Regions from separate parts of the Homo sapiens genome. Here region 1 is linked to region 2. Evidence: fine-mapped expression QTL. A gene starts in region 2. The other region holds a variant in brackets. All regions are shown on one strand. Distances are between the middles of the regions. Region 1 overlaps FAM193B (family with sequence similarity 193 member B). Region 2 holds the start of PDLIM7 (PDZ and LIM domain 7).

Region 1 (5,362 bases), 28 kb before region 2:
CCACACCCTCTCCAGAGTCACCGGTGACTTTTTTGTTGCCAAATCCATCCTCCTCTGCTGTTCCTATCGTGTTAGTCCACTAGAGAATATCTGGCATTTGTGTTTGTCCTTTTCACACATTGTCTTTGGGCTCCTCTGTCCTCAGCCAGGCAGGAAAGGGCAAGGGGAGTGCCATGTTCTCCAGATGTCTTGCCTGCCCCTCTGACGTCCTTTCTGTCTCCTTTGTGAGCTCCTCGTCCTCCACTTGACCCTCCTTCATGGGGACATCTCCCTGGGAAAGAGATGCCATCTAGAAACAGCCCAATAGTGTTTCCTCCCCACCCTGTACATCCACGTCTCCAACTGCTACTGGACACCTCCTTGTGGACGTCCCACAGGTATCTCAGACTCTGCACATCCAAAGTTCAGCTTGTTGTCTTTCTCCGAACAGGCCTGCTTTCCCTTCTCTGTTGTCTGTCTAGTCAATGGCACCGCCTCCCACCCTGTTGCCTGAGCCGGAGCACTGGGCGCCCGCCTGGGGAGTGCATCATAGTGACCTGGAATAGCATGCCTGGAACTGGATCTCAGTTTGACACTTGGCTCTGCCACACTTGCTGTATGACATTGGGCAAATCACTTAACCTCTAAGCCTCAGTTTCTTCATCCATAAAATGAGAATAACAGAACCTAAGTCGTAGATTGTTGCAGGGATGAAATGGAGCGATGCATGGAAAGGTTAGGCAGAGTGCCTGGCACATGTGAGTTCTCAGGCAGTGGGGCTGCTGTGGCAGCCATAGTGGCCATCAATGTTTCTCTGACTTTTCTCATTCTGTCTCCCTACCCAGCACCAAAAGCCCTATCCATGCCACATCGCTGATAGCTCAGACCAGTCCACCGCTCTCCACCCTACTGCCACTACCTTAAAAGCCATCAGTGGCTGGACATTGCCCTCGGGCACAAACACTGTAGGGCCTGCAGGGCCCTTCACGATCAGCCCCTGCCAGCTTTATCTCTCAGCCTCTCCTTTCTGACCTTCCTGCCCACCTGCCCCACCCAACCCCCACATCCCCCAAAAAATCTGGGCTACAGCTATACCTCTGAATGATTTGCATTCCCAGAAGATACTGAGCTTTCCCATTTCCAGCCTTTCCACTTGCTATTCCTTCTCTCTAGAAAATGCTTGTCTCACTGCCTCCGGGATGATTCCACTCCCCATTCTGTGCTCAGTGCAGATCCTCCCACCTCCAGGAAGCACTCCCTGGTGAACCAGTCTGTGTTGGGAGCATCTCCTCTAGATTCCCAGATCACCCCGTGCTTTCTTCCATGCAGCACTTGTCACTGTCACTCTGAATTCAACAGGCTGTTTGCTGTTGTCTCCCTCAGCAGACTGAAGTCAGCGAGGCAGAGAATGTCTCACGTACGCTAAACTCACAGGGCCTGGCCTGCTGCCTCACAGCCTCAATGGTCGGTAAATGGTTGTCAGATGGAATTGAGAAACATAGGAACTTCTGAAGATCAGGCCTGGGTGTATTGTCCTGGCTCTGCCACTTCCTAGCCACCTCCTCCTCCTGTTCTTTCCAAAGTCGAGGTTTCTCACCTATAAGCAGAGGGTCATGATGCAGCAAAGACAGTGGCGAGGATTAAAGGAGACATCTATGGGAAGTGCTGACGGTACAGAGCAGAAAGTGTGTGTTTCTGTGCTTTCTCCTCTGGCTTCCAGAGTGTATATGGTTCCATATCATTCCCTCCACACCAGCAGTTGTCAAACTTTTTTTTTTTTAGCAGCCAAACTTTTCTGTGAAATCTGTGTGGTGCTGGGGGAGCGAGGTGAAGGGCCCTTGGTCCTCGTTGGTCCAACCCAGGGCCTCTGAGCCCTACTCACAGCTAGAAATGCTGCTGCAGCTGCTGCAGACCAAGCTGCTCCCTGAGGGCCACGAAGCCCAGCCCCACCTTCGCACATGGGAAAGGACCCCACACAGACTCTCAGCTGTCCTCATACTGACCCTGGAATGTAGAGATGCCTCTTCTTCCTAATTTACAAATAGGAAAAGTAAGGTTCAGAGAGAATAAGTGATTTGTCCAAGGTCCCACAGAACAATTGACTGTAGTCCATTGTGGAGCCAGGGTTCACAAAAGATAAGTGCCTGCTGGGACGCAGGGTCACCCTCTGTACATTGACTCCGAGGTGGTAGCAAGCCCTGGTTTCTCTCACCAGCTGCCCTTTCATGTTTCTCTTCCTCCATTCCCAAATCAGCTGGAAGTACAGGAGGCAGTGGGAGTCAATGGCGCCAGGCGCACCACAGCAACCTCCTTCCCGAGGGTTTTTTATCTGCCGCCTGTCTCCCTCTAAAGGCATCGTTGGCCTTGAGGTGGGATGGAGAGGTTGGGGTGACTGAGATCCCACAGACTTTCATTTTGATTCCCTAGATCCAGATCTGTCAAAGCCAACTGGCAGGGCCTGGCCTCTCTGAGCCTTCCAGGCCTCACCTGGGCAAAGGAGCAGCTCTCACATCTTGCTGTGTAGGCCAGTGTGTTTGTCCATGGTATGCCATTGGGCACACTCTAGGTGTGACCTTGATTACTTGAGACCAAATGTGCAGCAAGTGGCCTCTCTACGGGAACACCGCCCTCTTTGGTAACACCCAGACATAGCATCAGGAAGGCACATGCCCT[C/T]CCAACCAGAGTAATCTCATCTACCCCCACACCTGCCTCCTGTAAGACCCCGTGATGGCATGGCTTTTTCCCCACCACCCGTAGGGGTGGAGAGAATGCCTCTCTAGTAGTGGTCTTCACATGCATCCCCACTTTGGCTTTACTCCGGAATTATTGTCCCCATTTTGCAGATTAGTCCACTGAAACTGAGGCTCTGGGTGAACAAGCTGTAAAAACCCTACCCTCTGTGGGTGTGACTACCCCTGCCCCCAGGACATGTACCTGTCTGGCTGCAGTTTGCCCTCACTCCTGCAGGGTGGGTAAGCAGGCTAGGATTTTAAGGCTTTGCTTCCAGCAAGTTAGTGGCAAAGCTGGGCCCCAGGCTGATGGGTCAGGTATCACATTGTGCCTGGCAGTTGACAGCCTCCTGCTAAAACTGCCTCTTGCCTTGGCAGGAAAAGGAGAAGGCCCAGTTGGCAGCAGAAGCTCTAAAGCAGGCAAATCGTGTTTCTGGAAGCCGGGAGCCAAGGCCTGCCAGGGAGAGGCTCTTGGAGTGGCCCGACCGGGAACTGGATCGGGTCAACAGCTTCCTGAGCAGCCGTCTGCAGGAGATCAAAAACACTGTCAAAGACTCCATCCGTGCCAGCTTCAGTGTGTGTGAGCTCAGCATGGACAGCAATGGCTTCTCTAAGGAGGGGGCTGCTGAGCCTGAGCCTCAGAGTCTACCCCCCTCAAACCTCAGTGGCTCCTCAGAGCAGCAGCCTGACATCAACCTTGACCTGTCCCCTTTGACTTTGGGCTCCCCTCAGAACCACACGTTACAAGCTCCAGGCGAGCCAGCCCCACCATGGGCAGAAATGAGAGGCCCCCACCCACCATGGACAGAGGTGAGGGGGCCCCCTCCCGGTATCGTCCCCGAGAACGGGCTCGTGAGGAGACTCAACACCGTGCCCAACCTATCCCGGGTGATCTGGGTCAAGACACCCAAGCCGGGCTACCCCAGCTCCGAGGAGCCAAGCTCAAAGGAAGTTCCCAGTTGCAAGCAGGAGCTGCCTGAGCCTGTGTCCTCAGGTGGGAAGCCACAGAAGGGCAAGAGGCAGGGCAGTCAGGCCAAGAAGAGCGAGGCAAGCCCAGCCCCCCGGCCCCCAGCCAGCCTAGAGGTTCCCAGTGCCAAGGGCCAGGTCGCTGGCCCCAAGCAGCCAGGCAGGGTCCTAGAGCTTCCCAAAGTAGGCAGCTGTGCTGAGGCTGGAGAGGGGAGCCGGGGGAGCCGGCCAGGACCAGGTTGGGCTGGCAGTCCCAAAACTGAGAAGGAGAAGGGCAGCTCCTGGCGAAACTGGCCAGGCGAGGCCAAGGCACGGCCTCAGGAGCAGGAGTCTGTGCAGCCCTCAGGCCCAGCAAGGCCACAGAGCTTGCCCCAGGGCAAGGGCCGCAGCCGCCGGAGCCGCAACAAGCAGGAGAAGCCAGCCTCCTCCTTGGGTGAGTGCACCAGGAACTGAGCGGCTGACCCCCTACCCCAGCCAGTCCACGGGGTGGAGGGGCAGCCTTTGTGTGTAGACAGCGCTGCCCCCAGAGCATAACCCCAAAGGCCTGGCCATGGGCACTGAGCCCTCCTGGCTGTGTCTTCCTAGACGATGTGTTCCTGCCCAAGGACATGGACGGGGTGGAGATGGATGAGACTGACCGAGAGGTGGAGTACTTTAAGAGGTAGGTGTGGGCTGCCTGCTCTCCCACTTGTGGAGGACTCCAGGTCCTGCCCACACTCAAGCCCTGTGTTGTGCCTCAAGCCTCAGAAAGGCCTGCTCCCTTGGCCCTGACCCCTTGGGGAGGCTCACCGCCCCCCCAGGCCCTCTCCCACCAGCCTGCCTGCTGAAAACCCACGGAGCCACTGGGCAGGATGGCACATCTGGGAAGGTGCAAGAGATAGGAGGAGGCATGTCAGGCCCCAAGAACCAGGGCTTTTTCCAGCTTTATTTGCTTTGTGTCTTCACTTGCACATTCTCTGCTTTGCCTGGGCTGAGGTCAATGAAGCAGTCTAGACCAGGAGTCTGGCCATGAACATGCAGCCTACTGATAAATGGCATAGAGTTGGGGAGGATAGAAGGGGTGGGGGCTGGCCAGGAGGCCTTCCCAGGAGAGGTGGTAACCAAGTTGAAACCTGAAGAGTAAGAATGAGTTGGCCAGATAAGATGAAAAGGTATTCATGCCAAGGGGGCCAGTGAGTACAAAAGATTAGGGTGAAAGAAACACGGCATACAGTCACCCTCCATATCTGCAATCAAAAATATTCAGGAAAAAAAACAAAACACAAAAAATAGCAATACATTACTAAATAATGCAAATTTTTTAAAAATTAGTATTTTTGGCCAAGCGCGGTGGCTCATGCTTCTCATCCTAGCACTTTGGGAGGCCGAGGCGGGTGGATCACCTGAGATCAGGAGTTCAAGACCAGCCTGGCCAAGTTGGTGAAACCCCGTCTCTACTAAAAATAGAAAAATAAGGCAGGTATGGTGGCACGTGCTTATAATCCCAGCTACTCGGGAGGCTGAGGCAGGAGAATCGCTGGAACCTGGGAGGTGGAGGCTGCAGTGAGCTGAGATTGGGCCACAGAACGAGACTCCGTCTCAAAAAAATACGTATTTTTACAGGTGGTGGCTCATGCCTGTAATTTCAGCACTTTGGGAGGCCAAGGCAGGCGGATCACTTGAGGTACTTGAGGTCAGGAGTTCTAGAC
Region 2 (5,362 bases):
AGGAGGCCACATCTGAGCAGAGACCTAAATAAAGTTGGAAACCTGTTGCTGAGATATCTGGAGAAGTGTTTCAAGGGCCGGGCACCGGGCATGGTGGCTCACGCCTGTAATCCCAGCACTTTGGGAGGCCAAGGCAGGTGGATCGCTGGAGGTCAGGAGTTTGAGAGCAGCCTGACCAACATGGAGAAACCCCATCTCTACTAAACATATAAAAATTATCCGGGCATGGTGGTTCATGCCTGTAGTCCCAGCTACTCGGGAGGTTGAGGCAGGAGAATCACTTGAACGTGGGAGGCAGAGGTTGCAGCAAGCCGAGATCACACCACTGCACTCCAGCCTGGATGACAGAGCGAGACTCCGTCTCAAAAAAAAAAAAGAAAAGAAAAAAGAAAAAAAAAGAAAAGTGTTTCAAGCAGGGGAACTGGCAAGTGGAGAGGCCCTGAGGCAGAAATATGCTTGGCCTGCTGGAGGAAATGTGAGTGAGGAGGTCAGGGTGGCTGGAGTGGAGGGAGCGAGTGGTAGGAGTCAGACCCAGTTTATTCATATTCTGTAGGTCTTAAGGACTTCAGTTTTATTTTGAGTGCAATATGAGCCCACTGGAATGCTAAAAGCTGAGAGTGACATGGTGCTGTGATTCTGGCTTTAAAAATATCACTTTGGCTGCTTCGTGAAGACTCTGGAAGGGGCAAGGGTGAAAGCAGGGATGCCCGTTAGGAGACCGTTACAGGGGCGCAGGCACAAAATGGCAGTGGCTGGGACAATGGTGGCAGCAGCGGTTAGATGTGAACATGTTGAAGGTGGAATTTGCAGAATCTGGGGGAGGACAGAAGAGAAAGGATAACTTCATCGTTTCTGCTGAACCAGTTGGATAAATGTTGGTGGCACTTCTTGAAGTGAGGAAGGAGTTAGGAAGGTGGGAAAGGCACAAGTTTGAATTGGGCCATGATGGTCTGAGATACCTAGTACAGTGGTTCCCCAACCTTTTTGGCAGAAGGGACCGCTTTCATGGAAGACAATTTTTCCACAGACTGGGGGTGGGGTGGGGATGGTTTCAGGGTGGTTCGAGTGCAGTACATTTATCATTAGACTCTTTTTTTTTTTTTTTTTTTGAGATAGAGTCTCGCTCTGTCACCCACACTGGAGTGCAGTGGAGCCATCTTGGCTCACTACAACCTCTGCTGCCCAGGTTCAAGTCATTCTCCTGCCTCAGCCTCTCAAGTAGCTGGGATTATAGGCATATGCGCCACCACGCCCAGCTAATTTTTGTATTTTTAGTAGAGACGGGGTTTCACCATATTGGCCAGGATGGTCTCGAACTCCTGACCTCAAGTGATCCTCCCCCGCCTCAACCTCCCAAAGTGCTGGGGTTACAGGCGTGAACCACTGCACCCGGCCCATTTATCATTAGATTCTCATAAGGAATGAGCAACCTAGATCCCTCGCATGCACAGTTCACAATAGGGTTCACGCTCCTATGGGAGTCTAATGCTGCCGCTGCACTCAGCTTCTCTGGCTTGCCGCTGCTCACCTTCTGCTGTGCAGCCCAGTTCCTAACAGGCCACAAACGGGGAGTTGGGGACCCCTGATCTAGTAAACATCTAGGCAGGGTTTTGGATAATGGAGTTAGAGTTCCTGGGGAGAGGTCAGGCTGGCCATGAAACATGGGATGCCTTTGCATATAGGTGGTGTTGAAAGCCACAGGACAGTACGGGGTCTCAGGGGGTGAGCATAAAGAGAGGCGACATCAGATGGCCAAGGCCAGAGGCAGAGGAGGATGGGAAGGAGGGGCCAGTGGGGCAGGGGGAAGCTGTGAAGCCAGGGAAAAAGGGTGTTTCGCGGAAAAGGATCAACCTGGACCAGTGCTGCCCCTAGGCAGGGCAGGATGAAACTTAACCACCACGGATTCCATGGCCCCATGGCCTCCAGGCCACAGGGGACCTTGAGAAGAGAGATCTCAGGGGACGGGTGCGGACAAGAGCCCGCCTGGCATGGCTTCAAGAGATAACTGAAGGAAAGCAAGTGGAGACGCGATAAACAGACAACTCCCTGGAGGAATTTTACTCTCGAGAGGAGAATTAAAGGGTAGTAGCTGGAGAGGGATGTGGGGTCAAGAGAAGGTCTTTAACGACGAGAACTCTCACGGCGGTTTGTGCAGAACAGGGTGGGTGTGATGACTGTGGATGGAGAGGGGAGAACTGCAGCGACTCTGTCCTAGGAGGAGGTGATGGGCCGGGACCACCAAGCGAGTGGAGGGTGGACGCCCCTTCCCTCACCCCGACACCCGCATGTGCTCAGTGTCCGTGCCGCCGGCCCTAGTGCCTGGGCTGAACGCGGGGCCGGGACTCTGAGGACGCCTCCCAGGCGGCGCAGTCCGCTCTGGCCAAGGTGGAGCGGGACGCGGCGCTTCCGACGGTGCGCGGGTCGGCTCGGGGTTGCAGGGACATCCGGCGTCCGCTCCTGCCCTGTTTTCCTGCCTTCGGCAGAGCGTTGCGCAACTCTAGCTTTAAACGCCCCTGTCCCCCTCAACTTGTCTCCCCCAGCCCCTCTGATTTACAGATTCTGCAGTCCCCGAGGGTTGCGCCTACGATACCGACACTCGCGGCAGCCCTGCGAGGCGAGTATGATCGTCCCATTTTTCGGAGTAGCAAACTAAGGTTCAGAGACTACTATGTCCCAGGTCGGTCTGGTTTGAAGGTCCGCTTTCCTCTCCCTCCGCCAGCGGGCGGTGCGAGGGACTGGGCGAGGCAGCGCTTCCCTAAGGAGGCGACCCGCAGCCCCGGCCCCCTCCCGACTCCGCCCCGTTGCAGGGCCCGGGTCGGCGAGGCCTCTCAGCTCTAAGCCCGACGGGACTTGGTGATTGGGCAGGACGGAAGAGCTGGGTGGGGCTTTCCACCAGCGGAGAAAGTCTAGTGGGCGTGGTCGCGACGAGGGCGTGGCCTGGTGCCCCGCCCCCGTCCGCGCGCTCAAAGTGGAGGGTGGCTGTGGGGGCGGGGTCAGAACACTGGCGGCCGATCCCAACGAGGCTCCCTGGAGCCCGACGCAGAGCAGCGCCCTGGCCGGGCCAAGCAGGTATCGACGACCGCGCGGGGCGTCTTGGGCTGCACCAGGCGGGCGCCCGGGGCCTGCTGAGGACCACAAAGGGCACTGGGGGTCGTGGTCCAGGCTGTGCTTCCTCCCGCTGGCCCTGGCCCCTGCCTCCGCCCCCGCCCCCGCCTTCCTGCCGCTAAGCCGGCTGCGGCGGGGCCGATTGGCGCCTGCGCCGCTTCCTGCGGCCGGGGCCAGTCTAATGCATGGGGCCCGGGCGGGGGACTAAGGGGAAACTGAGTCACGTCGGTGTGGGAGCAGTTCTGTGTGGGAGGCACCACCCCCCACTGGGCTCGGGGAAGGATCCCCCTCCAAGCTATGCTTGAGGGTCCCAGCCCCCATCTGTCTCCACAGGGGCCGCACCCCACTCCCGCCTTCCCCTTCTTCAGCACCCAGGGGTCCCGCCCTGGCTCCCAGCAGCCTCGACTGGTCCCGGAATGGCTAGGAGGATCCGCTGCAGCCGCCTCCCTCCCCTCCCCTCCCCTCCCCTCCCCTCCCCCCCCCCTCGCGTCCCAAGCCCCCGTGTGCTCCCTCCGCTGGCTCTCCGCACAGTGTCAGCTTACACGCCTTATATAGTCCGAGCAGGCTCCAGCCGCGGCCTGCCTGCCGGGACCTGGGGGCGGGGGAGAGGAGAGCCGGCCCCTGACTCACCCGGCCGCCCGAGGCTCCAGGCTGGCTTGGGGGGAGGCCGCGCCAGTTTAGTCCCTCGGCCCACCCCTGGTTGCAAAGAACCTCAAGCCTGGATTCAGGCACCCCTCACCGTTCCAGTCCCAAGGGGAGGGGGGCTGCTCCTGTCTTTCCAAAGTGAGGTCCGCCAGCCAGCAGCCCAGGCCAGCCTGACAAAATACCTGCCTCCTATGGCTTGGGCGTGCTCAGGGGCTGCCCGTGCCTGCCTGGCCCCTGTCCAAGGCTGGTATCCTGAGCTGGCCCGGCCTGCCTGCCTGCCCGCCCACCATGCTGGCCACTCACCTTCTCTTCTCTCCTCTCAGGAGCCGGCATCATGGATTCCTTCAAAGTAGTGCTGGAGGGGCCAGCACCTTGGGGCTTCCGGCTGCAAGGGGGCAAGGACTTCAATGTGCCCCTCTCCATTTCCCGGGTGAGCCTAGGTTTGGGGAGGGGGCTCCCCCAGCGGTCTTTCGGTGCTTAGGTCTCCAGAGGGTGATGGGGGGAGTCCTAACAGGAGCTGGTCAGGGGCCAGCAGGCCAGGAGATGTCTAGGTCCGGAGATGTAGTGGTACCTGCCTGCCACAAGGACTCCCAATGAGGTGGATACTGGGAGGGAGCACCCAGGCTTCTCCAGCCCTGCACTGTACCCGATGCTGTTCTCCCAAGCTCCTGTGGCCACCTCTGAGGGCTGGAGGGAGGCTCATTGTGCAGGATGGGAGCCTAACATTTCAGGAGGTATCTAAACTTGAGGTGGCAATGCTTGGAGCCAGGCCCCAGGCAGGACACTGTGACTATAGGATTTCACTTCAGCCTCACTGCCGCCCAGGGAATAGCAATCCTCATCCCGTTTTTCCAGATGAGAGAAGAACTCATGGAGAGGTGGCGGGGCTCGCTCATCGAGTCCATGGTGAAGCAGGGATTGGAATTGAGGCACAGCATGGCGTACATTTTTTGTGGGTAGAAGGGGTCTCTCCCCAGCCTATGTAAGGACCCACATCCACTGTTCCCATTCAGGATGTGGTGGCCTTTGACCCCAAGCAGAAGTGTAGGACAGGGCTCCATTCTAGGGGCTTAACTTCAGCTTCCAAGAGCCTGCCCTGGTGTGGGTGGAGCTGGAGGCTGGCTCCTCCCTGTAGCAGGGGGATTGCCTTATAAGCCCAAGAATGCAGCCCCACGCTGGGATGGCCAACAGTGGCTGCGGTCTGCAGAGCTGAAAAGGGCTGGCCTAGGCCTGGCCCCCTGAACCCCACTGGTGGGCCTCTCAGCTGGTCACCAGGCTGCAGCTCCAGCTATATGGTCCAGTTGTGAGACACAACAAATTGCCTGCCCAGAGTGGGTGAGGCCAGCCTGTCGGCTGGCATCTCTGACTGGCCTGGGGGTCAGGAGGGGGTGGGGACTTCCTGCCCCTATATCCGCCTGCCCCAAGAGACCCACCCAGGCGCCGGGTGGGCAGGCAGCTGTTGTCAGGAAGCCCAAGGCAAGCCCAGCCTGGAGGGGCCCAGAGGGTCGTGGCCTGAGGAGGGGCTCAAGCTGGAGTCTGTCTGTAGGAGCTGGGCGTGGGGGTTAGGGTGGGCAGGCCAGCAGTGCTCTTCTCAGGGGTCCTTTGATGGCAT

What was found. PIP is the estimated chance that this variant, and not a neighbour inherited with it, causes the effect. A credible set is the group of variants that fine-mapping cannot tell apart.
Region 1: its variant is the best candidate, but not a certain one, in a credible set for the expression of PDLIM7 in monocytes (BLUEPRINT, PIP 0.51).

Annotation. Positions count from the first base shown.
Region 1 is chr5:177,522,930-177,528,291 of GRCh38, reverse strand. FAM193B (family with sequence similarity 193 member B) reads left to right here. Exons shown (of 9, transcript NM_001190946.3): 6 at 3,087-4,107; 7 at 4,260-4,335. Among named protein-coding and RNA genes, the nearest start is that of DDX41, 8.6 kb to the right of the region's middle. The variant C/T (reference allele first, on the strand shown) is at 2,653.
Region 2 is chr5:177,495,235-177,500,596 of GRCh38, reverse strand. PDLIM7 (PDZ and LIM domain 7) reads left to right here and starts at 2,993. Exons shown (of 13, transcript NM_005451.5): 1 at 2,993-3,069; 2 at 4,074-4,180. The coding sequence starts at 4,085. RefSeq lists enhancers at 1,380-2,119, 2,338-2,387, 3,600-4,341 and silencers at 2,598-3,307, 3,718-3,797.